7 linked regions of the Homo sapiens genome follow. The protein of the gene in region 6 purifies or fractionates together with the protein of the main gene of each other region. This does not show direct contact. Each region holds a gene or a part of one and is shown on either strand. Other genes may lie near its edges. The genes, in order: PLCG2, ALDH9A1, FNBP1, NASP, ACO2, ACOT7 and SIPA1L1.

Region 1 (4,399 bases), on a different chromosome or scaffold from region 6:
TGAGTGGCCAGCGATGCCTTGCCACTAGAACCTTCTCCTAAAACTCATCCTGATTGACATGAGACAGGATTTTGGTTCCTGAAGTTCATGCCCTGTTAACTAAACCCCTTTCAGTACTAAAATCAGTTCACTCTTTAATTCTGCCCTTTCAGCTTCCTGATTTCTCCCGATTCCTTCCTTCTCCCTGGAGCGGCCGACAATGTCCACCACGGTCAATGTAGATTCCCTTGCGGAATATGAGAAGAGCCAGATCAAGAGAGCCCTGGAGCTGGGGACGGTGATGACTGTGTTCAGCTTCCGCAAGTCCACCCCCGAGCGGAGAACCGTCCAGGTGATCATGGAGACGCGGCAGGTGGCCTGGAGCAAGACCGCTGACAAGATCGAGGGCTTCTGTGAGTACTCGCTGGGTGGGGCAGTGTGGCCCGTCCTCTGGGGCCCTGGCCTGAGCACCTGTCCACCTTCCTGTCTTGTCATTACTGTGATTGTTGTTGGTTTGATGTGTTCTTTTATTCGTCTTAAAATGAAAGCATTGCCAGTTTGTGTGGATCTCTGATGAGGTTTACACCAGGTGGAGGAAGTTCAGCTGGGAAAACTCTGGTGAAAGAACTGAAGCTGAGGTCAGCCAACATGGAAATGGCATTCAGGCAGCTCTCCTTGCCTGGTGGTTCTGTGCCCTGTCTGACAGCATCAGGGATCGTCTGGTTCCCACAACTGGTCGAGTCATCTTTCCTCTTAAGGGCGAATTAGCCCAAGCCTGCAGAAACTCATAGCTTGGTCGCCAAATGCTACCTTGTTTTACTGCATACCATAGCAGTGAGGGGCCTTTGCTTTAGTCTCCAAGCAGGGAGAGTGAGTTGTTGAACGTTTTGTAGCTTTCAAATGCAGGTCTGGTCTTGGTAGAGGTGTCCCTCCTCCCCTACCTCCGTTTGATTGGGCAGCTGGTTCAGATCCTAAAGTTTCTAAGACTGTTTTTAACAAATAGAGTAAAGGCACTTAAGCAATTTTCAGTTGCAAATATTTGCTCTAATTTGTGTTTTTAAATTAACTAGTTTTTAATTGAAATATATATTCCTGGGGGTTAAGGAGTCAACTCAAATATTTCTCCTCCCTAAACCATCCTACTGAGGCAAGCTCATTACCAGTTACTTTTATCTTCCAAAATAGTCTATGCTTGCATAATGTGTGGGTTTAAAAAGAAAACAATTGGGAACTCTTGTACACTTCTGCACCTTGACTTCTTTTTGTTAATTAATAATGATGTTGGCGGTGGTTTCTTATCAGCACACATTGATCTCATTCTTTCTTGGACACATGACATGTAATGGCACAGGCCTCAATGTAACAGTTTAACTCCAGAGAAGGGCATTTCATGCTATTTCCAGGCTTTTGTTATTATTCGAAGTGACTATCATTGTACTCTTTTTTTTTTAAAACAAAATTAATTTTTTTGAGACAAGGTCTCTTTCTTTTACCCAGGCTGGAGTGCAATGGCATGATCATGGCTCACTGCAGCCTCAGCCCCCTGGGCTCAAGTGATCTTCCTGCCTCAGTCTCCCAAGTAGCTGGGACCATGGGAATGCACCGCCATGCCTGGATAATTTAATTTTTTTTTTTTTTTTTTGTAGAGATGGGATCTCACTATGTCCAGGCTTGTCTCCAATTCCTGTGCTCAAGTGATCCTCCCTCCTTGGCCTCCCAAAGCATTGGGATTACAGGCATGAGCCACCTCACCCAGCCTTGCACTCTTTTTTTTTTTTTTTATAATAGATTGATTGAGACATAATTCACATAGTATACATAGAATTCACCCATTGTATGCAGCATGTATAGTGTGGTGGTTTTAGTATATTTATATAAATGTGCAAGCACCACTCCAATCAAAAGTAGAACCTTTATATCACCTCAAGATGAAACCCCATACCTTTCACCATCACCCCATCCCCTCATCCCCCCTACCAGACGTAAGCAACCGTTAAATTTAATTCTGTTTCTATAAACCTCTCTATTCTGGACATTTCATAGAAATGGATCCTATGTATGTGGGCTTTTGTGACTGGCTTCTTTGACTCAGCATTTTTCAAGGTTCATCCACTTTGTTGCGTGGATCAGAAATTTTCCTTTTTGTGGCAGAATCACGATACGTTGTATGGGTATTCCACAGTTTATTCAGTCATCTGTTGACGGACCCTTGGGTTGTTGCCACCTTTTGGCTAATATAAATAGTGCTGCTAAGAATGTTTCTCTACAAGTTTTTGTGTGGATGTCTGTTTTTATTTGTTTTGGGTATATACCTAGGAGTGGAATTGCTGGGTCATACACTAACTCAGTTTCATCATTTTAGGAACTGTCAGACTGTTTTCTAAAGTGGCTGCACCATTTATATTCCTTCCAGTGGTAGAAAAGGGTGATCGTTGCATTATTCTTCATTTGTATATATGGGTATATCTGAAGGACAGCTTCCTGAAGGTTTATTTCTGAGCTGAAGGATATGGCATATATATATTTTAATAGACAGAGTCTCGCTCTGTTGCCCAGGCTGGAGTGCAGTAGTACAATGTCAGCTCACTGCAAGCTCCGCCTCCCGGATTCATGCCATTCTCCTGCCTCAGCCTCCCGAGTAGCTGGGACTACAGGCGCCCGCCACCACGCCCGGCTAATTTTTTGTATTTTTAGTAGAGACGGGGTCTCACTGTGTTAGGCAGGATGGGGGTATGGCATATTTTAACTTTAAAGGGAAGTTTGGCAGCACCCCACAAAAGAGGTTGCCCCCACTGTCTGTTTCAGCCACAGGATGTAAAAGTACCTGTTGCCTGAACCCTCATCTATGCTGCGTGGCTGCTGAACTTGGCCATCCACAGGTAGACTTTGGTAGCTTGGTGTCATCCTTAATTTGATGTATCCTATCATGAGTGTGATCAAACTGCTTTCTGAAAGGCTTTTCCTGGTTTTGGAGCCCAGTGGGTCTCTTGTGGCACAGAGCCAGAGCCCTGCTTTGGAACTGCCCATGTGGAGGTGGCCATCTTCCCTCTTGACTGTTTGCATTGGCCGGCTCCACCCCCAGGTGGCCCAGAAACCTGTTGCAGCTGGGGTGGCCACCCTCCCTTCCCCCACAAGGGGTGAGAGGGTTGGCACTGATGGTAAATACAGATGGGCCACGTTGAGACTGGACTGCAGGTTGTTCCTTTCTCTTCTCAACCTGCCCATCCCAAACCTAGCTGCCCATCAGAAACACCCAGGGGGGATCTTGTAAGTATAGGGTATTAACCATGGCATGTGTATACACCTGTGTAACAAACCTGCATGCTCTTCACATGTATCCCGGAACTTAAAGTAAAATAAAATAAAATAAATATATACAAAAAAGAAATTACAGGGTATTAGAACCTTCTTCTGAAGCTCATTGTGATGGGCATGAGACAGGATTTTGGCTTGAAATCTATGCCCTGTCATTCTCCCCTTCTGCTGAGTAATACCATTTCACTCGCTTACGCGGATGCGCTCTCTCGCTCTCTGTTTTAGAGACAGGGTCTTGCTCTGTTGCCCAGGCTAGAGAGCAATGGCCTGATCATGGTTCACTATAGTTGTGAACTCCTGGGCTCAAGTGATCCTCCTGCCCAGTCTCCCAAGTAGCTGAGACTACAGGTGAGTGCCACCATGCCTGGCTGATTTTTTAACTTTTGTGTAGATAGGGTCTTGCTATGTTGCCGAGGCTGGTCTCCAACTCCTGGCCTCAAGTGATCCTCCCACCTTGGTCTCCGAAAGTGCTGGGATTACAGACAGGAACTACCATGCCCGGCCTCAATTCATTCTTTTATTTATCTGTTCAGCCTCTTTATTTCCTTCTTCTTTCTCCCTGGAGAGACCAAGAATGATGATATTTCACCACTTTGGCTGGGGCGTATTATTATAATAAGTCCCCCGGATGGTCTGGTAACTAGGCAGGTTTCACACATATGCCACTGGAGAGACACTGCCCTTCCTCCACCTTCCCCCTCCTCTCCCTCCTCTTCTCCCTCCCACTTTCCCTTTCTTTCTCCTTCCCTTCCCACCTTTGCCCCCCCTCCATTGCCTCCCCTCTGTCATTTGGATGCCCACTGTAGGCGCCGCCCTAGGCGCTAGAGATACAGCAGTTATTAAATTGGATTCAAATCTCCGTGGAGCCTATATTGCTTTATTAGGTATGAGCAGTCTGGGGCTTGACTTCCAGTGCCCTTGGATGAGCTTTGCTGTGTGATCTTGGGCAAGTTACCTCCACTCTCTGAACTTTAATTCCCTTATCTGTGGACTGGAAATAACATTGGTGTCTACCCCACAGGCTCATGGTTGGGAAGAAGCAAATGAGAAGATGCATTGGAGAGGCTCGGCTGAATTCATAGTGTGTGACAGGCACTCAGTTGTT
Region 2 (4,399 bases), about 160 Mb from region 6:
AAACCAGAGTGCCTCTTCTCCTCCAAAGGATCGCAGCTCCTCACCAGCAATGGAACAAAGCTGCACGGAGAATGACTTAGACAAGTGACAGAAGTAAGCTTCAGAAGATCGGTAATAACAAACTTCTCTGAGGTAAAGGATGATGTTTGAACCCATCACAAAGAAGCTAAAAACCCTGAATTCTACCAGAGATACAAAGATGAGCTGGTACTATTCCTTCTGAAACTATTCCAATCATTAGAAAAAGAGGGAACCTCCCTAACTCATTTTATGAGGCCAGCATCAGCCTGATACCAAGACATAACAAAAAAAGAGAATTTTAGACCAATATCCCTGATGAACATCGATGCAAAAATCCTCAATAAAATACTGGCAAACAGAATCCAGTAGCACATCAAAAAGCTTATCCACCATGATCAAGTTGGCTTCATCCCTGGGATGCAAGGCTGGTTCAACATACACAAATCAATAAACGTAATCCATCATATAAACAGAACCAAAGACAAAAACCACGACTATCTCAACAGACGCAGAAAAGGCCTTCGACAAATTTCAACAGCCCTTCATGCTAAAAACTCTCAATATACTAGGTATTGATGGGACATATCTCAAAATAATAAGAGCTATTTATGACAAACCCACAGCCAATATCATACTGAATGGGCAAAAACTGGAAGCATTCCCTTTGAAAACTGGCACAAGACATGAATGCCCTCTCTCACCACTCCTATTCAACATAGTGTTGGAAGTTCTGGCCAAGGCAATCAGGCAGGAGAAAAAAATAAAGTGTATTCAATTAGGAGGAAGTCAAATTGTCCCTGTTTGCAGATGACATGATTGTATATTTAGAAAACCCCATTGTCTCAGCCCAAAATCTCCTTAAGGTGATAAGCTACTTCAGCAAAGTCTCAAGATACAAAATCAATGTGCAAAAATCACAAGCATTCCTATACACCAATAACAGACAAACACAGAGCCAAATCATGAGTGAACTCCCATTCACAATTGCTTCAAAGAGAATAAAATACCCAGGAATCCAACTTACAAGGGATGTGAAGGACCTCTTCAAGGAGAACTACAAACCACTGCTCAATGAAATAAAAGAGGACACAAACAAATGAAAGAACATTCCATGCTCATGGATAGGAAGAATCAATATCGCAAAAATGGCCATACTGCCCAAGGTAATTTATAGATTTAATGCCATCCCCATCAAGCTACCAATGACTTTCTTCACAGAATTGGAAAAAACTATTTTAAAGTTCATATGGAACCAAAAAAGAGCCTGCATTGCCAAGACAATCCTAAGCCAAAAGAACACAGCTGGAGGCATCATGCTACCTGACTTCAAACTATACTACAAGGCTACAGTAACCAAAACAGCATGGTACTGGTACCAAAACAGAGATATAGAACAATGGAACAGAACGGAGCCCTCAGAAATAATACCACACATCTACAACCATCTGATCTTTGACAAACCTGAGAAAAACAAGAAATGAGGAAAGGATTCCCTATTTAATAAATGGTGCTGGGAAAACTGGCTAGCCATATGTAGAAAGCTGAAACTGGATCCCTTCCTTACACCTTATACAAAAATTAATTCAAGATGGATTAAAGACTTAAATGTTAGACCTAAAACCATAAAAACCCTAGAAGAAAACCTAGGCAATACCATTCAGGACACAGGCATGGGCAAGGACTTCATGACTAAAACACCAAAAGCAATGGCAACAAAAGCCAAAATAGACAAATGGGATCTAAGTAAACTAAAGAGCTTCTGCACAGCAAAAGAAACTACCATCAGAGTGAACAGGCAACCTACAGAATGGGAGAAAATTTTTGTAATCTACCCATCTGACAGAGGGTTAATATCCAGAATCTACAATGAACTTAAACAAATTTACAAGAAAAAACAAACAACCCCATCAACAAGTGGGCAAAGGATATGAACAGACACTTCTCAAAAAAAGACATTTATGCAGCCAAAAGACACATGAAAAAATGCTCATCATCACTGGCCATCAGAGAAATGCAAATCAAACCCACAATGAGATACCATCTCACACCAGTTAGAATGGCAATCATTAAAAAGTCAGGAAACAACAGGTGCTGGAGATGATGTGGAGAAATAGGAACACTTTTACACTGTTGGTGGGACTGTAAACTAGTTCAACCATTGTGGAAGACAGTGTGGCGATTCCTCAAATATCTAGAACTAGAAATACCATTTGACCCAGCCATCCCATTACTGGGTATATACTCAAAGGATTATAAATCATGCTACTATAAAGACACATGCACACGTATGTTTATTGCAGCACTATTCACAAGAGCAAAGACTTGGAACCAACCCAAATGCCCATCAATGATAGACTGGATTAAGAAAATGTGGCACATATATACCATGGAATACTATGCAGCCATTAAAAAGGATGAGTTCATGTCCTTTGCAGGGACATGGATGAAGCTGGAAACCATCATTCTGAGCAAACTATCACAAGGACAGAAAACCAAACACTGCATGTTCTCATTCATAGGTGGGAATTGAACAATGAGATCACTTGGACACAGGGTGGGGAACATCACACACCGGGGCCGTAGGGGGTGGGGGGCTGGGGGAGGGATAGCATTAGGAGAAATACCTAATGTAAATGGTGAGTTGATGGGTGCAGCAAACCAACATGGCACTTGTATACCTATGTATCAAACCTGCACATTGTGTACATGTACCCTAGAACTTAAGTATAAAAAAAAAAAAAAAAGGAGGCAGGATTATCACTTGTTCCTCGCAGCTCTGGACTCCCAGGAAGAGGCAGCCTGGTCAGATTCTGGGAAACAAAAGAAACCTTTTGTTTCCGTCAAGTTTCAAACAGAGGACCTTCCGTGTGTTAGGCCAGCGTGGTAACTACTACACCACAGAAACCCTTTGCATTGCAGGCTTTTTATGTTTTGCGATGAGTATTAAATACTTGTTTTTACAATTTTTTTTAGTTGACAAATAAAAATTGTATATATTTATGATGTAAAAAAAAAGTTTAACTCTCTTTTTTTTAAAGGGAACATCTACAAATCTATGAAATCTTCCCAATTAAAGTAACGATACTTAAAACCCTATCTGAAAACAAATCTGAAAAAGAAAGGTAGACTTGAGAATCATCAAAATAAAGAATAAAAAGGAAACAAGTAAACCACATGGTTTAAAAAGAAAGAAAGGCTGGGCACAGTGGCTCACGCCTGTAATCCCAGCATTTTGTGAGGCCGATGTGGGTGGATCACTTGAGGTCAGGAGTTCAAGACCAGCCTGGCCAACATGGTGAAATCCATCTCTACGAAAAATACAAAAATTAGCCAGGCATGGTGGCACACACCTGTAGTCCCAGCTACTTGGGAAGCTGAGGCAGGAGAATTGCTTGAGCCCGGGAGGCGAAGGTTGCAGTGAGCCGAGATCACTCCACTGCACTCCAGCCTGGGCGACAGAGCAAGATTCCGTCTCAAAAAAAAAAAAAAATAAAAATAAAAAAAGGACGATGAGCTATAAAGAGTGCATTATAATTCAAAACAAAGCTTTACAAACATGAAAACCTGCCAAAGGAGATGTCCAAGAGCCAACATCCAGATGGGAAGTATTGAACAAAAACTTGTTTTATATACTAAGGTGAGCATGTGGAAATGTTTTTCCATTTTATAAAAACGTTACGGCCTAATGTTGCAACAAAGTCGAACTGCAAACATCACAAAGAAACCTCAGAGCAATGTCTGAGTTCTGGAAGGAAATAAATTGGAACATACCCTTATTATCCTGGCAGCCTCCAAAAGGATTCGGCAACGCTCCATGCCAGATTTTTGACTCCATATTTTAAAAGCAGCCTTTGCATTTTGAACAGCCAAATTTACTTCCTTTTCTCCTGAACATGTGAAAGTAGCTATCACTCGGCCTATAAAGAGCGGAAACATCAGTTTTAACTCAAATTGTTGCCACATATTTAAATAAAATATTATCTATCAATATTCTCTTAGTAGTAGTCTTTTTTTTTTTTTTTTTTTTTTTCTTGAGATGGAGTCTTGCTCTGTCACCCAGGCTGGAGTGCAGTGGCGCGATCTCGGCTCACTGCAACCTCTGCCTCCTGAGTTCAAGCGATTCCCCTGCCTCAGCCTCCTGAGTAGCTGGGACTACCAGTGCACGCCACTACGCCCAGCTAATTTTTTGTATTTTTTAGTAGAGACCGGGTTTCACCATGTTGACCAGGATGGTCTTGATCTCCTGACCTTGTGACCCACCCGCCTCAGCCTCCCGAAGTGCCGGAATTACAGGCGTGGGCTACCGTAACTTCTTGTTTTTATGTATGGTTTGATTTAGTGACCATCTCTATACTAGCAGGTTTTTTTGTTTTGTTTT
Region 3 (4,399 bases), on a different chromosome or scaffold from region 6:
GAGGAGCAGTTGGGCCGGGCGTGGTGGCTCACGCCTGTAATCCCAGCGCTTTGGGAGGCCGAGGCGGGTGGATCACCTGAGGTCAGGAGTTCAAGACCAGCCTGACCAACATGGTGAAACCTCGTCTCTACTAAAAATACAAAATTAGCCGGGCGTGGTGGCACATGCCTGTAATCTCAGCTACTCGGGAGGCCGAGGCAGGAGAATCACTTGAACCCGGGACAAGTGGCATCACACTCCAGCCTGGGCAACAGAGCAAGACTCTGTCTCAAAACAAACAAACAACAACAACAAAAAAATTGGGAGGCTGAGGCTGGTGGATCACCTAAGGTCAGGAGTCAGACCAGCCTGACCAACATGGTGAAACCCCATCTCTACTAAAAATAGAAAGGTTAGCCGGGTGTGGTGGTGCACACCTATAGTCTCAGCTGCTCGGGAGGCTGAGACAGGAGAATCGCTTGAACCGGGGAGGTGGAGGTTGCAGTGAGTTGAGATTGCACCACAGCACTCTGGCCTGGGCAACAAGAGCAAGACTCCATCCCCCACAACCCCCCCAAAAAATAACAGACAAAAGAGAAGCAGTTGGAGCCACGAGGGTACCTTTCTCCTGAGAGAGATCCAAGTGAGACAGAAGAAGACTAGAGAAGAGAACCAAAGATTTATCCAGTGAGAAATACTTACCATTCTGGGAGGGAGGAGAAAGAGGGCCCTGGAGGACTTAGAGAGGGTCCCTAGAGAGACAGAGGTAAGAACCTGGACATTTCTGTGCAGAAGGAGATGGTTTTGAGGCAGTGGGTGAGGGGTCCGTGCATCTGAGAAGGTCCGAGTGGGGTGAATTTTGTGTGGACTTCATCTTCGACGACACTTGTTTCATTGCGAAGGCCACTGTTTGCTTCCTCCCTGCATTTGCCAAGACATCTAACATATCCTGATATTGCTTTTTCAGGTCAGAATGAAGGAACGATTTCCGTAGTTGAAGGAGAAACATTGTATGTCATAGAGGAAGACAAAGGCGATGGCTGGACCCGCATTCGGAGAAATGAAGATGAAGAGGGTTATGTCCCCACTTCATATGTCGAAGTCTGTTTGGACAAAAATGCCAAAGGTGCTAAGACTTATATTTAATACCATAAAAAAAAAAAACTTAAAAAAAATGGAGTTGTTTCTCCCCACAACCATGACTGTTACAGGCAGTTCCTCAAGAGACTGGCTGGCAAGCACCATAATGCACGTTCTCCTGTAGTCTCACGTGGACTTCAGGGTCTGGGCACCTGAATTGCCTTGTCTAGTTTGGGCTGTAATCAAGTTTCACTTGCTGATGAAATTTTATGTGGAAAGCTGCCAACCGCCAACTTACAGCTATGTCATTCAAAATCTGATAAACATTTCTTCTTTTGGCGGTATCTGTAGATTAAAAAAAAAGTTGCATTGTAGCTTCTCATCTTTCTGAATTTAAAAGCCGGCACGCATCATGCAGGTGCCAAAGACTTCCCTACTCTTGTTTATATCTAGTATCCACCATACACTGAGCTACATTAGGTGGTTACAGATTGTAACTTAATAAACTGAACTGTGTTAGTTTGTTAAATTGTATACTCATTCACTTGGGAGGAAGTCACAAGTGAAATAACATCTCCTTCTTGACTAAAGCAGTAAATAAGATTCTTATATTGGCACCAAAAGTGTGTGTTTTTACTTAAACCTGGTCAGCATCCTTGGTAGGGCATCACGAGTACCCTGTTCCATCTACATGATCCCAGACAACCAGCTGAAATCTGGAAAAGTTTGGTGAATTGACCACTTGATTTTTACATTGCATTGCTGATTTTCCAAGTGTCATCAAATTGACAGGTTTTTGTTGTTGTGTTTGTGTTTTTGTTGTTGTTGTTGTTTTGAGACAGAGTCTGGCTCTGTTGCCCAGGCTGGAGTACAGTGGCTCACTGCAACCTCCGCCTCCCCCAGGTTCAAGCGATTCTCCTGCCTCAGCCTCCCGAGTAGCTGGGATTACAGGTGTGCACCACCACGCCTGGCTAATTTTTGTATTTTTAGTAGAGACGGGTTCGCTCTGTTGGCCAGGCTGGTCTCAAACTCCTGACCTCAAGTGATCTGCCTGCTTCTGCCTCCCAAAGTGCTGGGATTATAGGCGTGAGCCACCGCACCTGGCCCAAATTGACAGTTGATCAGATGTGCTAGTGCTGTTTAGATGGAGTTACTTAAAAGGCAGAGCGTGTCCCTGCATCAGCTCCTTTTGGCTGTGATTTCCTCTCACACTTGGTTCGGTTTCTGTTGGTTTTCCAAGTAGAGCTGCACTCACGCTTGCCCAGGTGGGGCTATAAAGAGAACGTGGTGTGGCAGCAAATGCTTCTCCCCACAGACACAGATCTCAGCACATTGCTGTTCAAAGACTTTGGGGGTTTGCTTTTGTTTTTTTGTTGTTGTTGTTTTTGTTTTGTTTTGTTTCTGCTTTTAATCATTGGCAAGGTTTGGATTTACTGGAAATTATTTTAGAATTTCTGGCTCATTTTATACAATTAACTGTAGCCAGAATGAAGTAAAATGTCTCACCACATCGAAAGGAATCTAGGCCACATGAGAATTTGCATTTTTAAATTGGCATTGATGTGGGAGGGGAGATAGTGAAGTTGGTCACATGCGTAGATGGTTGCCAGGCATTTCACTGTGCCCATTTCCAGAATCCACCCCGAGATCATAGACAACCCACTACAAATGGGTCAGAATGAAGGTGTTGGGTCAGATTCTCTTTTTATTTGATTTTGAAAATTATTTCCTTGTGTCCTTCCTACTTTCAAGTAGGAAATTAGCCCCTGCCTGCCTCTACATTGTGGGTTCATTTGATCAGCTCAAGTCCATTTAAAGCTGATTTTCCAAGCAGTAGCTGCACATTCGGGCTCTAGAACCTAGTAGGGGTTCTGGATGCTAGGGGCCGTGTTTCAAGATTCTCACAGCCAGTTAACCTTTATTTAGTGACAGCCTGATTTTTTAAAAAACTTTTTTTTTTTTTTTTTTTGAGATGGAGTCTCGCTCTGTCGCCAGGATGGAGTGCGGTGGCACAATCTTGGCTCACTGCAACCTCTGCCTCCTGAGTTCAAGCGATTCTCCTGCTTCAGCCTCCCAAGTAGCTGGGACTACAGGCGTGTGCCACCATGCCCAGCTAATTTTTTGTATTTTTAGTAGAGACAGGGTTTCACCGTGTTAGCCAGAATGGTCTTGATCTCCTGACCTCATGATCTGTCCACCTCAGCCTCCCAAAGTGTTGGGATTACAGGCATGAGCCCGTGCCTGGCTTTTTTTTTTTTTTTTTTTTTTTTTGAGACAGAGTCTCACTCTGTCACCTAGACTCAAGGGCAATGATACAATCCTGGCTCACTACAACCTCTGCCTCCCGAGTTCAAGTAATTCTTGTGCCTCAGCCTCCCCAGTAGCTGGGATTACAGGTGCCTGCCACCACACCCGGCTAATCTTTGTATTTTTTTTTTTTTTTAGTAAAGACAGGTTTTCACCATGTTGGCCAGGCTTGTCTCAAACTCTTGGGCTCAAGTGATCCGCCCGCCTCAGCCTCCCAAAGTGCTGGGATTACAGGGTGAGCCACCGTGCCAGGCCCAAATTTCTTTTGGATACTTTTGCTGGCATAGTATCAATAAAGCCACCCATCCCGACCCCAGGCCTCTTTGTAGATATTGCAGCAAGAAAATCAGCTGACCCTTCAACCACAAGGATCTGTTTAAATGAGCAGTAGGAAGTTTCCAGCTTTACCCAGTAAACAAGTGAATGGGAAACCTAAGGTATTAAAATCTGACCTTTCTATCCGATGACAAACTCATTTCCAGTCTGTGAACTCCTGGACAAAGCAAACTAACCACTGAAAAACTCGAAAATAGGGCAAGACGACATTAACCTTGTGAAAGTCTGCTTTGAAAAAAGGCATTCTGTCAAGCTGTGTATTTTTTTCTTGATTATTCAAATTTATTTCGTTATTCAAATTTAATTCAGAAAATAGCTCAGTTGGTTTCAGGGGGAATGGGGTGGGAGGGGTTTGGGCACATAAATTTATGATGATAATTTTAAATGTACGATCATTAAGTTGTATGCCTCAGTACTATAACAGGTGAATCTCTGTAATATTGACTAAACAGTTAAAAGATATTTTGTAAATTTCAGGTCCATCGCATCAATGCATGAAATATTAGAAAACCAAATTCCAAAGAATCAGGAATTTCCATTTCCACCCAAAGTATACTTTATTATCTTCTAGCAGTTGTCTGTTAATATAAAAGCAGCAAAATCTCAGCTACTTATATAATTTTCTCCTTTTATTTGAAAGTTACACTTAGAGATTAATAATATGTACAGAGAAGCTTTTCCTGCCTACTCTGTTTAT
Region 4 (4,399 bases), about 39 Mb from region 6:
CCTACCTCGGCCTCCCAAAGTTCTGGGATTACAGGCGTGAGCCACTGTGCCCAGCTGTATTTAGGTATTTTTATTTAAAAATGCATGGTTGTCTTACAACATAAAATGTTACCTAAGTTTTTAAGCACACATAAATACTTTCTCTTAGGTTATTTTTCCCAGATTACTGGAGAGGTCAGTATTCCCACTTTCCTGCCATTAAGGGTATTTAGGAGGAAAATTTGAGATGTCTTATTCTAATCTAGTAGACTACCCTTAAACATGACCTCCATCACAATTTACTGCTTAGATTCTCTAGTTACTCTCAATAGACTCTTAGGCCATTAGTTGGCCTGACTTTGCATGAATTCTGCCAGTATTTTACTCCATGAAAGCCAGTCTTCTTACCTTACATAGAGAAGTACTTTCTCCTTTTGTTCATTATACTTACGTAATTTTTGTCCTTCTTCCTTCTGTCTAGATATTAATAGCTAAGACTTAATACACAGTGCTATTTGTTGTCTAAACATTGTTTTCAGTGCTTTTACATACATTAACTCATTTAGTTCTTGCAATAGCTCTTTGAACAAACAGTTATTAACATTCCCATTTTACAGATGAGAAAACTAAGGCACTGTGAGAATAATTTGTCTAAGGTCTCACAGCTAGTTATGGGTTAAAGGTAGGATTTGAATCCAGTTAGAAGAACTCCAGATATTCTGCGCTTTACATCATGCCTTTCCATGGGCCTTAATCATCCTCTAGGTCCCAGCCAAAGGTCCTTTAACTATTCTGATCCATACTGACATCCATCTTTTAGCAGGAGGAATACCTATTAATACCTTAGGGCTGTTTGGCCCTACATTATGTATTACTAATTGTAGCACATTTATGTCACTTAGGATGTATATATATTATATATTGATAAAGAGCATACAAAATTTTCATGCATTGTTTAATGTCACTTTGACCTTGAAAGCAAGAGGGGTATTGGTTTTCTAGGAGTATGTTACTGGAGAAATATCAATTTATAACTGAAGAACTAGAACTAAATGTTTTAGATTAGATGGTAATTCAGATTTTAGATGTTTATTCTCTTTGTAGAGGTAAGAAGTATGGAGAGACAGCTAATGAGTGTGGAGAAGCCTTCTTTTTCTATGGGAAATCACTTCTGGAGTTGGCAAGGTATGGATGTTGTATTTAAAAACTGAAGTTTCCTTGTTAAGATTGTTTACTAGCTTTGAGATTTCACAGGAGCTAAGCAAGATTGGTTTTACCTAGAGAGTTTTGAAGGAGCTTGAAGTAGTGATGGAAGTTGTGAATGGCACTTGATACAATTAGTAGTTATATTTAAGTTTTGACTTTTGGAGTCAGTAGAAGCAAAGTTCTTTCCAGTAGTGAATGATCCAAAGTTCAGTGTAGAGAATCTTTAAAAGCACTGTGAGCTAGCTCAAAACAAGGACTGAATAGAGGACAACTGGAAAGAATTAGCAAGTGAGACTGTCCAGTAAAAAAGACTTTTACTATTGAAAAGTTCTTGGCTATGTTCTATCAGAATTTATTAATCAGAATAAGTTCTGTTTAGGGTATACAAACTAGCAAATGATGTCATCTATTTAATCTCAGTTCTGGTAAGGTTTTTTTTTTTTGAGATGGAGTCTCAGTCTGTCACCCAGGCTGGAATGCAGTGGCGCGATCTCGGCTCACTGCATCCTTCATCTTCCGGGTTCAAGTGATTCTTCTGCCCCAGCCTCCTGAGTAGCTGGGACTACAGGCATGTGTCACCACACCCGGCTAATTTTTTATTTTTAGTAGAGACAGGGTTTCACCATGTTGGCCAGGCTGGTCTCGAACTCCTGACCTCAGGTGATCCACCCACCTCGGCCTCCCAAAGTGCTGGGATTACAGGCGTGAGTCACTGCGCCTGGCCCAGTTCTGATAAGTTTTTTTTTTTTTTTTTTTAAGACGGAGTTTCACTCCTGTCACCCAGGCTGGAGTGCAATGGTGCGATCTCTGCTCGCCGCAACCTCTGCCTCCCCGGTTTGAGCGATTCTCCTGCCTTAGCTTCCTGAGTAGCTGGGATTACAAGTATGCGCCACCATGTCCAGCTAATTTTGTATTTTTAGTAGAGATGGGGTTTCTCCATGTTGGTCAGGCTGGTGTTGAACTCCTGACCTCAGGTGATCTGCCTGCCTCCACCTCCCAAAGTGATGGGATTATAGGCGTGAGCCACCGTGCCTGGTCTCTGGTAAGTTTTTAATCTCGTAATCATACAGAACTTTCTCATGATTTGCCGTGAAAATCTTGCTAGAGTATTTTTGGCTATTTAGAGAAATCGGGTGGATACAAAGTTTGGGAAATAGTATGGTCCTATTACAAATGGAATGCATATAGGTCTTGTTCTTTTGACAAGAGACATGCTTTTCAGGCGGCTGGATGGAGGAATATGCTTATTTCCTTCAGTGCTCTTGCAGTCTTAATTTATATTACTAAAGTTTTGATCATTGCTTCCTTGAATATACATAGTTTTGTATTGCCTGCGCTTGGCTTACACTTCTTGCTTTTATAATATAGGACTGTATTTTCTGTCTTAGAAAAAATTGCTAGGTTCTAGCCATCAAACCTTTGGTGCTTTCTTTTGTTCTCCTAGAATGGAGAATGGTGTGTTGGGAAACGCCTTGGAAGGTGTGCATGTGGAAGAGGAAGAAGGAGAAAAAACAGAAGATGAATCTCTGGTAGAAAATAATGATAACATAGATGGTATGTGGAGTTGCATGTGACATTCAAGAGATGCGACGTTGTATATTTCTTGTATACAGTGGTGGAAACGGGGCTCTACCTGTCCTGGATGGTCTCTCCTAAGATGCTTGGGGTGATGATGCCTGCATCTGGTGGAGATTGCAGTGGGGATAGCTGTTTACTGAAGCTGACAGCAGATTTTTGAAAGAGAATAACTTATTTTCTCAAGTAAATCCAGTTATTTCGATTGGGGTTTTTTAAATCAAAAAGATAAAAGCAAGATTAAATTGGTGTTTTAAATACTATTACAACCTTAAGTGTTTTTCTGATGCAAATTTTTTTAAACAGCCTGTGCAGTTCAGTTATTTTAATAGCAGTACTTTTAGAGCCCTTGTACATTTTTTATGTGTGCGAAAATTATATAATTTCTAAGCTGAATTTGGCTGCTATAGTTTTACATATCAGATGGGGGAGAATGAAAAGCTTGGCATCTCTTACCTAACTGGTAATCAGAATGCTCAAGTAAAACAATACCTAGTGTAACAAGCTTGGGTTTCTTTTGCAGTAAGTTGCTCTGCTAGCCGGGATGCTCCCTTTCCTTTTCTCTAGGGGGCAGATAATTTTTAGGCCATCTGCTGAAACTTGGTAGGCTTTTTGAGGGTTTAAAGGGAATGTATTTTTAGTTTCCATTTATGCCTTTATCATTAAACTCGAAGACATGTTTATGCTTCATGTTCTTTAACCATGTAGAGGAAGCAAGGGAAGAGTTGAGAGAACAGGTTTATGACGCCATGGGAGAAAAAGAAGAAGCCAAAAAAACAGAAGACAAGTCTTTGGCAAAGCCTGAAACTGATAAAGAACAGGACAGTGAAATGGAGAAGGGTGGAAGAGAAGATATGGATATAAGTAAATCTGCAGAGGAGCCACAGGAAAAAGTTGACTTGACTCTAGATTGGTTAACTGAAACCTCTGAAGAGGCAAAAGGAGGAGCAGCACCAGAAGGACCGAATGAAGCTGAGGTCACTTCTGGGAAGCCAGAACAGGAAGTACCAGATGCTGAGGAAGAAAAATCAGTTTCTGGAACTGATGTCCAAGAAGAGTGCAGAGAAAAAGGAGGTCAGGAGAAGCAGGGAGAGGTAATTGTGAGCATAGAGGAGAAGCCAAAAGAAGTTTCAGAAGAGCAGCCTGTGGTGACTCTAGAAAAGCAGGGCACTGCAGTGGAGGTAGAAGCAGAGTCTTTAGACCCGACAGTCAAGCCAGTGGATGTGGGTGGGGACGAGCCAGAGGAGAAGGTAGTTACCTCTGAAAACGAGGCAGGAAAGGCGGTTCTTGAACAACTGGTAGGTCAAGAAGTACCACCTGCTGAAGAGTCACCAGAGGTGACAACAGAGGCTGCAGAGGCCTCAGCTGTAGAGGCTGGATCAGAAGTCTCTGAAAAGCCTGGGCAGGAGGCTCCAGTTCTCCCTAAGGATGGTGCAGTCAATGGACCGTCAGTTGTAGGAGATCAGACTCCTATTGAACCACAGACTTCTATAGAAAGACTGACAGAAACAAAAGATGGCTCAGGACTAGAGGAGAAGGTCAGGGCAAAGCTGGTTCCTAGTCAGGAGGAGACTAAGCTGTCTGTAGAAGAGTCTGAGGCAGCTGGAGATGGGGTTGATACCAAGGTAGCCCAGGGAGC
Region 5 (4,399 bases), on a different chromosome or scaffold from region 6:
AGCCTGAGTGACAGGGCAAGACCCTGCCTCAAAACAAAACAAAAACCCCAGAGGCTTTTTTTGAAATAACTTGCTGGAGATCCCAGGCTTAGACGACACCTGAGAGAGCCCCCTGGACTGGTGTCTGACTGTCGGAAGTGCTGAATTCTTGGTAATGTGTTTGATGGGCCCAAATGGAAGGCTGTCGAAGGGACCACTGTTCTGAAAAGGAGGTTTCAGCCAAACGAAATGATGACACGGGCTGTAGCCATCCTGCCTATAATCTGAAGGAAGCTTCCTTGAGGGACAGGGAAGGGCCCACTGCACAGCAGATGTGAGGCCAGGGTTTATCTGGAAGACATGGGAGGTCCCTGTGTGGGGTCAGTGAGACTGACCCCAGTAACAAAACGGTGGGATTCTAGTGGACTCTACTGAGTCTCAAAGGAGGAACTAGGAAATGGGACCTGCCAGCCTCCGGCATGGGAGAGCGATGCTTCAGAGAAGGGACCTCAGCCAGTGCCCTCGGACCCTTGATGAGATACACTCAAACCACACACCCCTTCACTGAAACTCCAGACCAGTGTGTGCCCTCTGAAGGCCCACTGGGTTCCCCCAGGTAAGAGAATGGCAAAGAACGTGGGTTTCCAGAGCAGTCTCTTTCCAATTAATAATTAATACATCAGCTTTTTCATTTACAAATCGGTCACTTATGAAATTGGTATCCAGGACAGGAGGCTGTGGTCGTGTCTGGGCGCATGTGACTACACGTCTGTGTTAAGTGTGAGGAAGGGGTGTGGGAGGACCCCAGACTGGTGCCAGAGTCTCGGCCTGGACTCAGCCTGGATCCATCTCTGGTTCTGTGACCCTAGACAGGTCACTGCCTCTGAGCCCTAGCCAGAGGGACACTTTACAAATACACGTAATAATGACCACATTCTAGGCCGGGCGTGGTGGCTCACACCTATAATCCCAGCACTTTGGGAGGCCGAGGTGGGTGGATCACCTGAGGTCAGGAGTTTGAAACCAGCCTGGCCAACGTGGTGAAACCCTGTCTCTAGTAAAAATACAAAAATTAGCCAGGTATGGTGGTGGGTGCCTGTAATCCCAGCTACTCGGGAGGCTGAGGCATGAGAATCGCTTGAACCCAGGAGGCGGAGGTTGCAGTGAGCCGAGATTGCAGTGAGCCGAGATTGTGTGTCACTGCACTCCAGCCTGGGGGATAGAGCAAGACTCTGTCTCAAAAAAAAAAAAAAAAAAAAGACCATATTCTTTCTCCGCTTAAACTGTTCTAGGACTCTGAGGATGGTGACCATAGCGTTCCCACAGCCCTCGCGTTCCTGGCTGCCCCTGCCCACCTCATACCACCCGCTCTTCCAAACACAGAGAACTCCAGCAGTACAGGCCCCCTCTCACTTCCACAAAAGCATCAAGTTTCTTCCTGGCTCAGGGTCTTTGCAAATGCTGTTCTTTCTAGCATGTTCTTCCTCCAGTCAATGCAACTCATATGTTCAGTCCTCAGGTTATCTGTCACATCCTCAAAGAAGCTCTCTCTTTCCCCCAGCATCTAAATTAGACCTCTTTTTTATACTGACCAAGTCCCGCACTTTCCCTTCCTAACACATACCCAGATCTGCAGTTACCTACCTCGGCCATTGTTTAGTGTCCACACCCACAAGCAGATCCCTGAAGGCAGGGCCCCTGCCTGACTTGTTCACACTGAACCTCAGTACCTAGCCCAGTGCCTGGCACATAAAGAATGTTCAATTTGTTGAACGCATGAGGGAATGAGCTCTGAATGCTATGAGTGTGCATCTCATCTCCAGAAGATTCACTCTGAGCCCATAAAGCAAGCAGAAAGCCAGCCCCAGAAGGTAGCAGCCCTGTTGTGGGCAGCTGTCCCCAGGGCTGCAGAGGACCCACGTTCCCGGCCATGTGCAGTTCCCGGCACTGTGGGAGCTCCTGTAACATTATTACCCCCACCAGTGTTGTTGCTAATGTGGAAACCGCCGGCCGGCAGGCAGGACTGTCCTTTCAGCTGAGGGGAAAGAGCCACTGTGGAGCCAGGATACCACCAGGGGGCCAGGGTGGAAGAGAGGGTCTGAGTGAGAGCGCCGCCCCGAGTGTTTCCCATGGGGCTGGGAGGCTTTGAGCCATGCTGACCCTGGGAGCTGGAGCACTTTCAATCACATGCCCACAGGCCGCAGCCCTGCCAGCATTCAGCTCCTGCCAACGCCCCTCCCCGTGAGGGGGACCCACTCCCACTGCAGGGGCTGGAGAGTGGGGAGGCCCAGAGCTGGGAGAGAGAGGCCCGCTGTTGCCAAGAGCAGGCTGACACAAAGGTCCCACAAGCCGAGCCTGGGAGAAGGAGCAGGAACTCGATTTCATAGAAGGGTGGGGGAAAAGCCTTCAGCATGGCATACAGCCACCCCCATGTAGTTAAGCAAAACTCACAGAAGAATGGCCCCCAAAGGAGGCTCCTCAGTGACAGAGCACCAGAGTGGGAGCCAGGATCAGCATTGAGCCCTAATCGTGCCCTCATGTAGTTACAGAACTCAAGTATGATGCCACTGCCGCCTCAAATTTACAAATAGTGACCCTAGCACGCCTACCTCCCGGAGAGGGTCCTTGGAGGGTCAGAGGAGAGCGGGAGTGGGTGCAAATGGGATGCTGGCAAACTATGCTAAGATGCACCCCTCACTGCTCAGGCAGACAGGGAGGCCTGCATGGCCCCTTCCAGAGCACCTGGCAGGATCCACATCATCCTCCAACAGGACAGAAAAAGGACCTGCAGTGTGGTAAGGTCAAGGATGATTTTTTCTTTCTTTAGGCTTCCTCTGTATTTTTTAACATAATGAGCAAGTGCTATTTTTAGAAAGAGAAACAAGTAAAATCAAGTTTTAAAAGCAGACCAATCCAAAGAGGTGTGAGAATTTGGAGGCAATGCCCTGGTTTGCTCCAGTGTGAGGGTGAGGCCTCTCGCCCAGTCTTGCCCACTTGCCCACCCCCAAAGCCACCTTCTGCTCACCTTGGCCCGGCGCAGGTCTTTCTCGCCCCCAACCTGGGCTTCAATCAGATGGTCACAGTGGATGGTGGATGGCACAGCCACCTTGGACAGCCCGCTGCTGATGAACTGGAGCATGGCCATCTGGGCCGTCGCATCCTGCATGGCCACACGGTCCGGCCGCAGCCGCAGGTACGACTTGCCTCGCTCAATTTCCTGGCTGGCGGGGTCATCCAGGTGTCCATACACAATCTTCTCCGAGAGTGTCAGCGGCCGGTTCAGTCTGTGGGGAGAAGAGCAGAAGGGTGGCCTGGTGCTAGCTGCACGGCCTCCTCCCGCCCTGCCTCTCCCTCTCAGTCCATGTGGCAACCTCAACAGTGGCCAGGGACAGGGAGTCTGAACTCAGGACCTCAACGTTCCACTTGGGTGGGGACTGCTGGGTCCTGTTCACTGCACCACCTCCTCACCTCCTGCAGCACCTGGCACTTGTTAGGTGCTCCACAATTACTTGATGAGTAAGTGAATGACAACATCACAAGAGGGCAGCGCTGGTTCTTTTCAAAGGATCCTGGCTTTCCCAGCATCGTAATTCCTACTAAGTCCCCGCAACATGCATATCTCATCATTCCTGCCATTTAACAACAACAACAACCAAGAAAGCCATTTAACAACAACCAAGAAACAGGCTCAGGAGAGTGACCAAGTTCACAGCTAGATTTCGCTACTTCCCTCTGTGCCCTCAGCCCCACTAAGGCACAGGGAATCAGGACCAGCATCCCCTTCACCTGTCCACCCTGTCCGCCATCTACAACCCTCCACACCTCAGGCCTGGGATGCCTGGCTACCCAACTATGACACTAAGACTTTGCCCATTAGCTCCAGACATAGACAGGAGTATCTGTCAGTTTTCAAGAACAGAGACCGGGTCACTGCCACTGGCCTCTCACAGCTCCTCCTCCTCCTAGACCCCATTTCCCCGGAGGCCCCACCCCTCCCTTCCTCATCAGAGCCAAAATGGCAGTCCAAACCTGCCCTGGGGTCCGGCCCTGTCAGGACTCAACCGTCTTCTCCCCACAAGCCTCCCAGCCATCTAGACTGAGCTCTGCGCGGGTCCACTCTCCCTGCCAGGCTCAACGTTCCGGCTGACTCCCGGCTGCACCCACACAACAGAGCAAAGGGGCTGTTGTGGCCGCCCTGCCTGCCACAACAGCCCCTTTCAGACCTCACGCTCTGCCCCCCAGAATTCTCAAAGCTTAGGCCAAGCTTGAGACTTCCTTCCTAAGGAGGAGCAGAGTTCAACCCACACCTGACAGGCTCTGTCCTATTGTTTGAGGCCAAGAAAAAAGTTTCAGACTGGGAGTCAGAAGCTCTGAGTTTAACCCTGACCTGGGGGCCTGGTGTGGTGGCTCACGCCTGTAA
Region 6 (4,399 bases):
GGATCCCTTTCATAAGGAACCAAGCTCTGCCCCGCCTCTGGGATGGGCTGCTTCAGGCAGAGGCTTGCCCACCTTGGGACCCAACCATGCTGTGTGCCCTTCCTGGGATGGTCTCTTCATTCCGCCTGGAAACCAGCCCAGCATCTTCAACCCTGGAGCCGGGTGTGAATCCTGATTCACCACTGACTCACATCGACTCCTCTTTTGTAAAATGGGCCAATGTCCACCTCACAGCAGAGTTGCGGGGACCAAATTTCTCCCTGCAGCCCATGTTCAACCAGGCATTAAAAACAACACAGTGAAAGAAGCCGGTCACAGGGTCTGCCTATCACCCATTTACACGAGATGTCCAGGAGAGACATATACACAGAGGCAGAAAGTGGATTGGCGGTTGCCTGGGGCTGGGGGACCAGTGGTGGCTAAGGGGTGGTGCTTCTTTTTGGTGAGATAAAAGGTTTTGAAATAGACTGTGGCGGGGGATGTCCACCTCTGTGAATAGAAGAAAACCTGCTGAATCGTATCCTGGAAGTGGGTGAACAGAACGGCATGTAATTACATCTCAGTAAAGCTGTTAAAAGAGAAAACCTCCACAGTTGAGAGCTCTCTGTGGTGGGGGAGTAGTCAGGGCTGTCAACGCATAAGACTGGCCCTGAGCTAATAACTACACAGGAATTCTTTCTTCTCTTTACTTTTGCGTATATTTGACCTTTTCTATAATTAAAAAGCTAGAAAAGCAAAAAACTAACTAGACCTAGATCTAGGAAAACCAGCCCCTCCTTTCTTCCCTAGGCACCAATGATCTCCAGGCCCCAAAGAGACGGGGACTTGGCTTTACAAGCGGTGGGCTGCGGGCAGAGCTGAGGGAGCCGTCTGGGCTGTGCACAGGCGCGATTTTCCCCACTCCCCGCCAAGAGGCGCTAAGAGCTAACTCAGGACCATGCTCCTTCTGGTCCAGTTCATAGGTGTGTGATGGGCCCCAGGCCCCACGCACGCGGCACGGCCCGAACGGCAGGGAGATCTCCGCCCAAGAGCGAGAAAACCTCCAGGGCTTCATACAGCCCGGTCCTCACCTCTGCCAGCCACACGCAGCAGTGGAGCGGAGCCCTCGAGTCCCCTAACGATCTGGCCTCCATGACCACCTGGGAGTGGAATAGGAGTAACTTCCTACAGCTCTCGGCATCTTTACCAGAGATGTGACCACAGCCCTCCAGCCGCCGAGGGCGTGGGAGGACCACCCAACTCTGGGTCTGCAGAAGGCACTGCAGACGAGAGCCCTCCCACCCCTTTGCCCCCACATGGGCTGTGCACGTGGGGCAGGGACTACAGCGATAAGGGGATATTCCCTGCGCAACCCATGCTTAGGGCGCGGCAGGCTGTGCACATCAGGGTCTTCCCAACAACCCCACCAAGCAGCACAGAAATGATTGTCCACTTTTACCAATGAGGAAGTGAAGCACAGACAGGCTGAGTAACTTGCCCAAAGTGACACAGCGGGTAAGGGGAGAGCCTCCATTTAAACCTGGGCATGGGGGCTGCCCTCCAGGTCGTCCTATGCCGAGGGACTTTTAGGGGTGGGACTCGTCCATGGGAAGTGAGGAAGGCGATGGACCTGCAGCGTGTCCACGATGAACCAGGGTCAGGGGCTTCCCTGCCTCCCCTCACCTCACCCCGGCCCTCGGCACAGCCTAGGAGCACTTGCTGAGCTTGGCCTCCCCCAGGCGGGGGCCCTGCCCTGCCCTCAGCCATATTATCCCAAACCACTACAGCTGCTCCCACCCCAGCGGCCACCAGGCCATCGAGCATTCCCAATGCCACAGGCCGAGGGCTGTGACTGCTTCTCTCGAGGTCAGTTAATACACAGCCTGAGGCGGGCACGAGCCCAGGTGCAGGTCATTCTCAGGGTCGGCTCCAGGCTGAGGGAGAATCTGGTGCCCAGCAACGGGCCCCAAGGCGGCTCTGATGTGGCCCTGCTCTTTAATATTTGCAGCAAACTCATCAGCCAGGCTCTGCCCTCAGACAAAGCAAATGCTGTCTGATGATGGATGGATGTGTGGGAGCCTGAGAGCCTGTGAGGGCCCCACTGCTCTTCCCGTCTCCCGGGATGGTAGTATCTGCTGGATGTTCCAGGCTCTGAGACAGAGTCCAGACCAGCCCAGGAGCCTCAACGTCACTGCGTGGAGTGCCCGCCCATAAGCGCTGCCCTCCCAAGGTGCGGGCGGCCTTCCTCCCTGAGTGCCCAGGGGCGCCCTTCCAGGGTGAAGGTTTATGAAGATGGCAGTCAAGGGCAGGGATGTCCCAGGTGCCTGAGGACCCAGGCTCACCACCCAGGGGGAGGTGGAACAAAGGGCCGCGGGGCGGTGTCTGTCCCATGGTAGGTTACGGGCTCACTGCTGGTGGGCAGCCAGCCTCCCCAGGTCATGGCTTTGCTAAATAGTTCTCCTACCCAAGTGACAAAGGGGCCACCCTGTCCCGCTGGGTGAGAAGCTGACAGAGCAAGACAGATGTCTCCAGCACAAGGCCCCACCCACGGCCCGGCTGCTGCCTCCTCGCAGCCATCTCCCTCCACCCAGCAAAGTAAATAAATGCATACGCTGTTGGCTGTTGCTGTTTTTAATGGAGGGTTGGGGGTGGGTGGAGGACGAAAGAACGCTCTGCGGGAAGACAGATGTCTCTCTCAAGTCCCCGAGGCTGCTGGTGGGGGAAGGACTGGAGCCTCTGGGGCACTGGCCAGTGGTGCCAGCTGCCGGGCACCCACCTGTGGCCTCAGGCAGGCTCCTCCGAGCCTCTGGGGCTCCCCAAGAATATGCCAGAGAGAAAGGATGAGGTGGCAAAGGGCAGCTCAGGGCACATGACCCCCATGTATCCCGGGCACCTGCCTGATGGAAGGGATGGGGCAGCATGGCCAGGAGCAGGACTCTGAGTCCCACGGGCCCAGCTGTGTGGCCCAGGGCCAGGTTTGTTCACCTGGAAACAGGAACTCAACAAAGTGACATGGCAAAGTGCTTCCTATGGTGCCGGTGCACGTGAGCTCCTACGTGTGTGTGCACATGTGTCTGCGGTCCCTGGTGCATGTGTGTGTGTCTGTGTGGTGGTCCTGCTGTCCTCAGAAATACCTGAGGCCAAGTGCAGCCTGGGAACTGCTCCAAGGACTGTCCTGCTGGTGTGTGGCTGCCCCAAAGGAGGGCCAGATGGCCCGGGGTCACCTTAACGCAGCGGGCCCTTTAGGATGTCACACCCACACATGGGGACGCAGGGGTGGGGAGGGTCCCAAGGTAGCAGGTTGACAGTACGCTCCCTCCCTGGTGCTCAGGGAGCACCGCCTGGCACTCAGCACCAAGCCCCTGGCTCCCCTGCAGCCTAGTGGCTGCCTGGGCCTGGGGTCTGCATCTTTTTCCTCCCTCCACTTAGTGCTTCCTGCCACTGCTGTCTTCTGGGCTCTCTTCCACTGGAGGGGAAGCCTGTGGCTTTCAGAGCCAAGTGCTGCAAACCAAATGTTTTCCACTTTGCATTTTCTGTGCTTGGAGAACACACATTTGGAACATGGTATGGAGGACGAGTGACTAAGTTCCACCCTCGGTAAAATCAATAGCTTGTCCTTTTTGTAATTAATGAATGGCGTAAAAAGGGTTTCCAGTGGTGATATAACAACTTCCTGTAAGCCTGAGGGACACAGACCTTCTTAATTAGGAAGCCACGTAGCATGCCCTCTCCCTGTTATAACAGGAGACAAGAGGGGTCTTGGGATAATCACAAAAGCAATGAAAACATCTCATTATTGAGGACACTCAGCACGGCCGGGCGAGGGGCCTTGTGCATGGAGAAGCCAGCAATGATGAGCTTAGCACCAGGACCACCAGCCTCACAAGCACCTGTGCCCCCAGGGTCTTGCTCCACCTGAGGACCTTGCCTTAGCGGAGCCTGTCCGCCATCCGCTGTGGCCTCTCCGCCATCCGCTGTGGCCTCTCCCAGCAGCTGCAGGCCTGGGTTAATTACCTCCTCCTCCACACCCACCCAGGACTGCACCAGCCTCCAGCAGAAAGCAGCCGGAAGTCTCAAATAATGAGATCATTGTGGAGAGTCATAAACACCCTCACCAGGGGCTCCCCTCACCCAGCAGCACCGGCTCAGACTCCGAAAGAACTGCCCCCAAGTGGGGCCAAGAAAGGAGGCGTAAAGGCCAACGGGAGGCTGCTGGCGGAGGCAGGGAGATCGTCACCACAAAGGGGAGAAAAGGCATTGGGACTTGGGCCTGGGTGGTGGCCTCTCAGGAGCCCCTCCTGCAGGCACGGAGTGCCGTGGTCCCGGGACGCTCGGCTCACAGCTCTTGTGCCGGAGTGTGGACATGGCGGTCCCCACCCTACAACACCAATAATGATCATAGCTGTCACCTGCTGAGTGC
Region 7 (4,399 bases), on a different chromosome or scaffold from region 6:
AGGTTCATTAGACCTGGTTAACTAAGGCAGGGTATGTGGGTAGGGCAGTTTCTGAATATTTACTCCTCTCCAAAACAGGTGAAATTAAAAGTTCATATTTTGATTTCCAGGGAAATGCAGTCATCCAAAAGGAAGTTCTTCAAACTATCAGACAAAGGAATTTTTCTATATTTTGACATATATACATAATCCCTAGGCCATCTAGGAGGTAAGCAGTATTAGGAAATACTATCCTGAGCAAAGTATATAAAACACACACACGCACACACACACACATATATATTTGCTGCTCTTTACTTTTTAAAAGACACAAATAGCCTATCATAACCATTAACTTTCTACCATCTGATATTCACAAATCCATGAGAGCTCAGGTGTAGGACTGGTCATCTTAGTGGCAAAATAGGACACAGAACACTGTCTTGGCTTTAGAAAGCCTAAGAATCAATTGCCAAAGCTTAAGAGAAATTCTTAGAAAATAATGGCATAAACTAAAAAGAGAGATCTTAAAAACTAGCAAAAATAGCATGTGCATGTCCAAAGGAGAAAATAAACAGTTGATTAAATTTCTTCCACCAATAAACCTCCCCAGAGACAGAGAAATTAAATTTTCAACAGTGCTGCTGGCTTGGCAGGAGCTGTGGGGGGTTGGGTGGGGCAGGGAGCTCTTAGGTTTTCCCTTCTGGAAAAGACTAGGAACCAAAATGCCAAAGCACCATGAGCAGGGGCAGCTCACCTGAAGCCAAACCCTAGCACATGCAGATACAGTTAGGAAAGCAGCTGCCAGACTGAGACAGCAAAGGTCCAAACAATTGCTGAGTTTTGGGCAGCAATTAGGAGAGAGAAGAGAATAAGAGCATCATGGAACATAGAAGAAAAGCAATCTGACAATTTGAGATGTTGAGTGTCTTTTAATGTTCAATGTGTTCAATGTTTCTCAGCTCCCAGTGGAAAATTCTTAAGATAGATATTACCAGACTTCTCTATCTGTCATGGCAACTTTATAAATCCAGTGATGTAAATCCTGGGAATGGTCCCATTTAGTCACTCTTTCCAGCTGCTGTCACCACACACTGAAAGGGAGCTTCGTCCTGAGTCAGACTCCATGGATGAAACATTCAGCATCACATGTAACCTATTGTTCTTCACAACACCCTACTCCACTACCTGCTAAGAGATGTTCTACATGGTACACAAACCCTGCACTCGAGTCTCAGGCCCACAGCTGTCTCCTCAGACCTACCTCCGCGGGGTGCAGTCATCATGCGGGGGAATGATGACAACCTTCACCGTGACAGATGTTCTCAGGAGGTCGATCATCTGCTCATGGCTCAGAGTGGCTACCGCCACCTTGCAGATCTCCACCAGGCGACTGCCCTGCCTCAGCCCTGCCTGCCAGGCATAACCGTAGGGCTCCACATCCGCCACAATGCCCTCATAGTTGACATGGAAGCCAAGCTGTCCTAGCCCATTTCTTCGCAGAGTCATCTCCACCGATTCACAGCCTTTTGAAACAAACTAGACAAGGAAATAAAAGATACTGTGGTTTAAAGCAATAGGGTATTAAGTGGTGGACATGGAACTGGAAAATCATTGCAAGCAGGGTTAGTTCTGAATACCTTATTGCCAGCTGAAGAGCAGTCTGGTTATTTCCTCTTCACTAATCTCCTATTCATTAGGCCAAAAGGAATATACTTGTTGCATCCAAAAAGCTCAACGGCTTCCCTGAAGTTACAAGGAAACCTCTACCAGAGACCTACAGGGAGCTGGCAGTAAATAGAAACCATATACTGCTACTCATTTAGCCTTTGTAAAATTCAAGGCAGCAGATACTCAAGCAATTCTTTTCAACACCACCACCAGATGACTGGACTGCAGCACCAGGGAACAGGTCACATGCAAATGGGTTTTGAACATGAACGCACACACACACACACACACACACACACACACACACACACACAGAGTAAATGTGTCTTCCCCAATTTGTTCTACTTTTCCGAAACATCCATGGAAAACACAAGCATGAGATAAACTCTGTTTGCTTCACACATCAAGGGAGTTTTCAGAGGAGCTAATAACAGAGCACAAGGTTCAGTAACTTGGCTCTAGTCTGTATTGAAAACTTTATGAAAGAGAAACTGCATGTAAGGAAGAGGAAGGAGAGACTCACCTGCAACCTTTTGACAATCTCTTTGATCTCCTCAATGTTAATAAAACTACCCACTGAAACACATTCTCCTCGTTCATAGAAGATTTTGAGGCTGGTGTCAGTTGAAGTCCACCCTATCACATCTCTACAGGAACAATTGAAGACCACGCTCTTTGTTTCCTGTTCAATGAGCACAATGAACTCATTGGAGATCCCTAAAAGGCAGTCTAGTTCCATGGCCTTGTTGTAGTCTTCAGCCCGGACTGCCCATACAATGGCCCCCATGCTGCTGAGCTCGGCTCCTGGATATGGCTTAGACTTTTCCTTCTTCTTGGAAGCCAGAGAGATGAACGGAAACTTGCCAGAAGGGTCGATAGGGGTGTTGGTGACATTCTTTTCTGCCAGATCTTTCAGGTATTCCTGGCGGGTCCGAGTTGCCATGGCCCGAAACTTCTCCGATTTATGAGCAGCATTTTCTGCATTAATCACTTTCGCCAAAAGGAAGTCCCTGAACACATTTGACTTAGGGAAAGTGACCCCTTTAGGAATGGGAGGCCCAAAGGAAGGCACATCTCTGGACCTGGTAACAGCCACACTGAGAGACAAAGATCAAAGAGAGCCACGTCAGTATTTCTCAGTCTCACAACATCAGAATAAAATATACTTTCTCAAAGACAAAGATGTACCTCAGATACAAAATAGCTGCTTATTTTTCCATGAGAAACAACACACATTTCTGCTTAATACGAGTATATTTTTTCATTCTACCGCATTTAGGATTTACACAACATAATTTTTTTTCTAGGCCAAAAACAAACCTCCCAAAATCCCAAAAGCTAACACTATTAACTTTTTTTTTACCAGACAGGAAACTGACCAAAACTCCATGAAAAAAAATAGGTTTACTGTAATATTCTGTGTAAGACATTTTAAATACCTACTAACTGTTTTCAAGGGAGGTTACTGTAACCACATCATCTTTCAGAACAAGCATACATTCTGTGAGAACACAAATGTGTTCTCCATTTTAGATATGATGGCTATAAGCAGACAGCTTACATTGAAAATATCAGAAGATGCATGCCATAAAAGAAATGAATTAAATTTCAATAAAACTTAACTAGTATTTGTTGGCCTAAGTGTGAGGCATTATGCAACCAGATTAAAAGCATAATTTTAAAATGAAAATTGGAATCTGAGTAATAGTATGAGAATCTTTATGTAATAGCAACAACGCTTTAAAATCATATTTTTAAACTGAGCTATTCCTTGGTCCTTTTGGTATTTTATTCTGATAATCTATTTCTAAGAAAAATATTTTCCTTCTCCCATTCCTTTAAGCAAGATTGATATAAGAAAGCCTGTTCCAGTCATTTCTTCTGACTATATATTCCTAAAATTGGGCCTAAGAAAAGGATCATATGAACATTTGTAATAACTTATTATTTTTAACCTCAAAAGGAAAAAAAGTAAGTTTCTCCTAAAACAACAAAGGAAGTTGTTGATATAGAAATAGAGAGGTTGAGTGTTTTATATCATTTCCCAAGATTTTAGTAAAGTTTGACATGACTGGAAATGATTCTAACACATCGAAGATCGCTCTTTCCAAATTAAAAGTGAACAAATTATGCAATTATACTTAGTATTAGGGAAACAATAAAAAAATCGGTTTCTTCTGAACTCTTGGAATAGAAATGGCATCATCAGAGAGTATGCATCTTTCAAATAAAATTGAAGAGCTCTGTTTCACTTTTTTTTCTTTAGGAAGGGTTTGCTTTAAGATATTCAGCTTTGTTTTTCAAGAAATAGTTATTTCTTGTGAAAATAAGAAAAATAAAAATCAGCAACCTCAGGAGGCAAATTATATTTCTGGTGGAATGGAAAAGCTACATGCTCAGAAGATGCCATGGGATGGCCTATCTGTTGGTTTTACAAGTGTATTTTTAAAAGACTACCTAGTTCACTTCATGACAAAGAACAGTGGCAACCAACACTCCATTTTCTAACTGGAGGAGAGAATTCAGAGACTTCCATATGGCTTAATTATACCAATATGTATTAGGAAGGCAATTTTTCTTGTCTATTGTGAACTGCCTGACTTGAACGCTGACAGCTGTATAATTTTAATTTGATCGTGTTATTTTTCTCTTAAAGTCAAGCAAAAGATGCTGAAATCCAGGTTTGCTAGATTTTTCTAAGTGGAATCCTGTAAGAATCCAGAAATATTTAATATCTTTCACTTTAAAA

The links.
Region 1: the proteins of ACOT7 (region 6) and PLCG2 purify together in Homo sapiens (affinity purification with mass spectrometry, with the first as the bait; one study listed by BioGRID). This does not show direct contact.
Region 2: the proteins of ACOT7 (region 6) and ALDH9A1 fractionate together in Homo sapiens (co-fractionation; one large-scale study listed by BioGRID). This does not show direct contact.
Region 3: the proteins of ACOT7 (region 6) and FNBP1 purify together in Homo sapiens (affinity purification with mass spectrometry, with the first as the bait; one study listed by BioGRID). This does not show direct contact.
Region 4: the proteins of ACOT7 (region 6) and NASP purify together in Homo sapiens (affinity purification with mass spectrometry, with the first as the bait; one study listed by BioGRID). This does not show direct contact.
Region 5: the proteins of ACOT7 (region 6) and ACO2 purify together in Homo sapiens (affinity purification with mass spectrometry, with the first as the bait; one study listed by BioGRID). This does not show direct contact.
Region 7: the proteins of ACOT7 (region 6) and SIPA1L1 purify together in Homo sapiens (affinity purification with mass spectrometry, with the first as the bait; one study listed by BioGRID). This does not show direct contact.

Annotation. Positions count from the first base shown.
Region 1 is NC_000016.10:81,785,791-81,790,189, forward strand, and holds part of PLCG2 (1-phosphatidylinositol 4,5-bisphosphate phosphodiesterase gamma-2), read left to right. Parts: intron 1-152; 5' UTR 153-199; coding exon 200-392; intron 393-4,399. UniProt on the Homo sapiens protein: The production of the second messenger molecules diacylglycerol (DAG) and inositol 1,4,5-trisphosphate (IP3) is mediated by activated phosphatidylinositol-specific phospholipase C enzymes. It is a crucial enzyme in transmembrane signaling.
Region 2 is NC_000001.11:165,691,460-165,695,858, forward strand, and holds part of ALDH9A1 (4-trimethylaminobutyraldehyde dehydrogenase isoform 1 precursor), read right to left. Parts: intron 3,939-4,399; coding exon 3,793-3,938; intron 1-3,792. UniProt on the Homo sapiens protein: Converts gamma-trimethylaminobutyraldehyde into gamma-butyrobetaine with high efficiency (in vitro). Can catalyze the irreversible oxidation of a broad range of aldehydes to the corresponding acids in an NAD-dependent reaction, but with low efficiency.
Region 3 is NC_000009.12:129,892,544-129,896,942, reverse strand, and holds part of FNBP1 (formin-binding protein 1), read left to right. Parts: intron 1-946; coding exon 947-1,105; coding exon of another isoform or gene 1,106-1,125; exon of another isoform or gene 1,126-1,682; intron 1,683-4,399. UniProt on the Homo sapiens protein: May act as a link between RND2 signaling and regulation of the actin cytoskeleton. Required to coordinate membrane tubulation with reorganization of the actin cytoskeleton during the late stage of clathrin-mediated endocytosis.
Region 4 is NC_000001.11:45,603,853-45,608,251, forward strand, and holds part of NASP (nuclear autoantigenic sperm protein), read left to right. Parts: intron 1-1,083; coding exon 1,084-1,164; intron 1,165-2,629; coding exon 2,630-2,739; intron 2,740-3,468; coding exon 3,469-4,399. UniProt on the Homo sapiens protein: Component of the histone chaperone network. Binds and stabilizes histone H3-H4 not bound to chromatin to maintain a soluble reservoir and modulate degradation by chaperone-mediated autophagy.
Region 5 is NC_000022.11:41,506,655-41,511,053, reverse strand, and holds part of ACO2 (aconitate hydratase, mitochondrial precursor), read right to left. Parts: intron 3,264-4,399; coding exon 3,005-3,263; intron 1-3,004. UniProt on the Homo sapiens protein: Catalyzes the isomerization of citrate to isocitrate via cis-aconitate.
Region 6 is NC_000001.11:6,267,683-6,272,081, forward strand, and holds part of ACOT7 (cytosolic acyl coenzyme A thioester hydrolase), read right to left. Parts: intron 1-4,399. UniProt on the Homo sapiens protein: Catalyzes the hydrolysis of acyl-CoAs into free fatty acids and coenzyme A (CoASH), regulating their respective intracellular levels.
Region 7 is NC_000014.9:71,669,467-71,673,865, reverse strand, and holds part of SIPA1L1 (signal-induced proliferation-associated 1-like protein 1), read right to left. Parts: intron 2,748-4,399; coding exon 2,174-2,747; intron 1,519-2,173; coding exon 1,244-1,518; intron 1-1,243.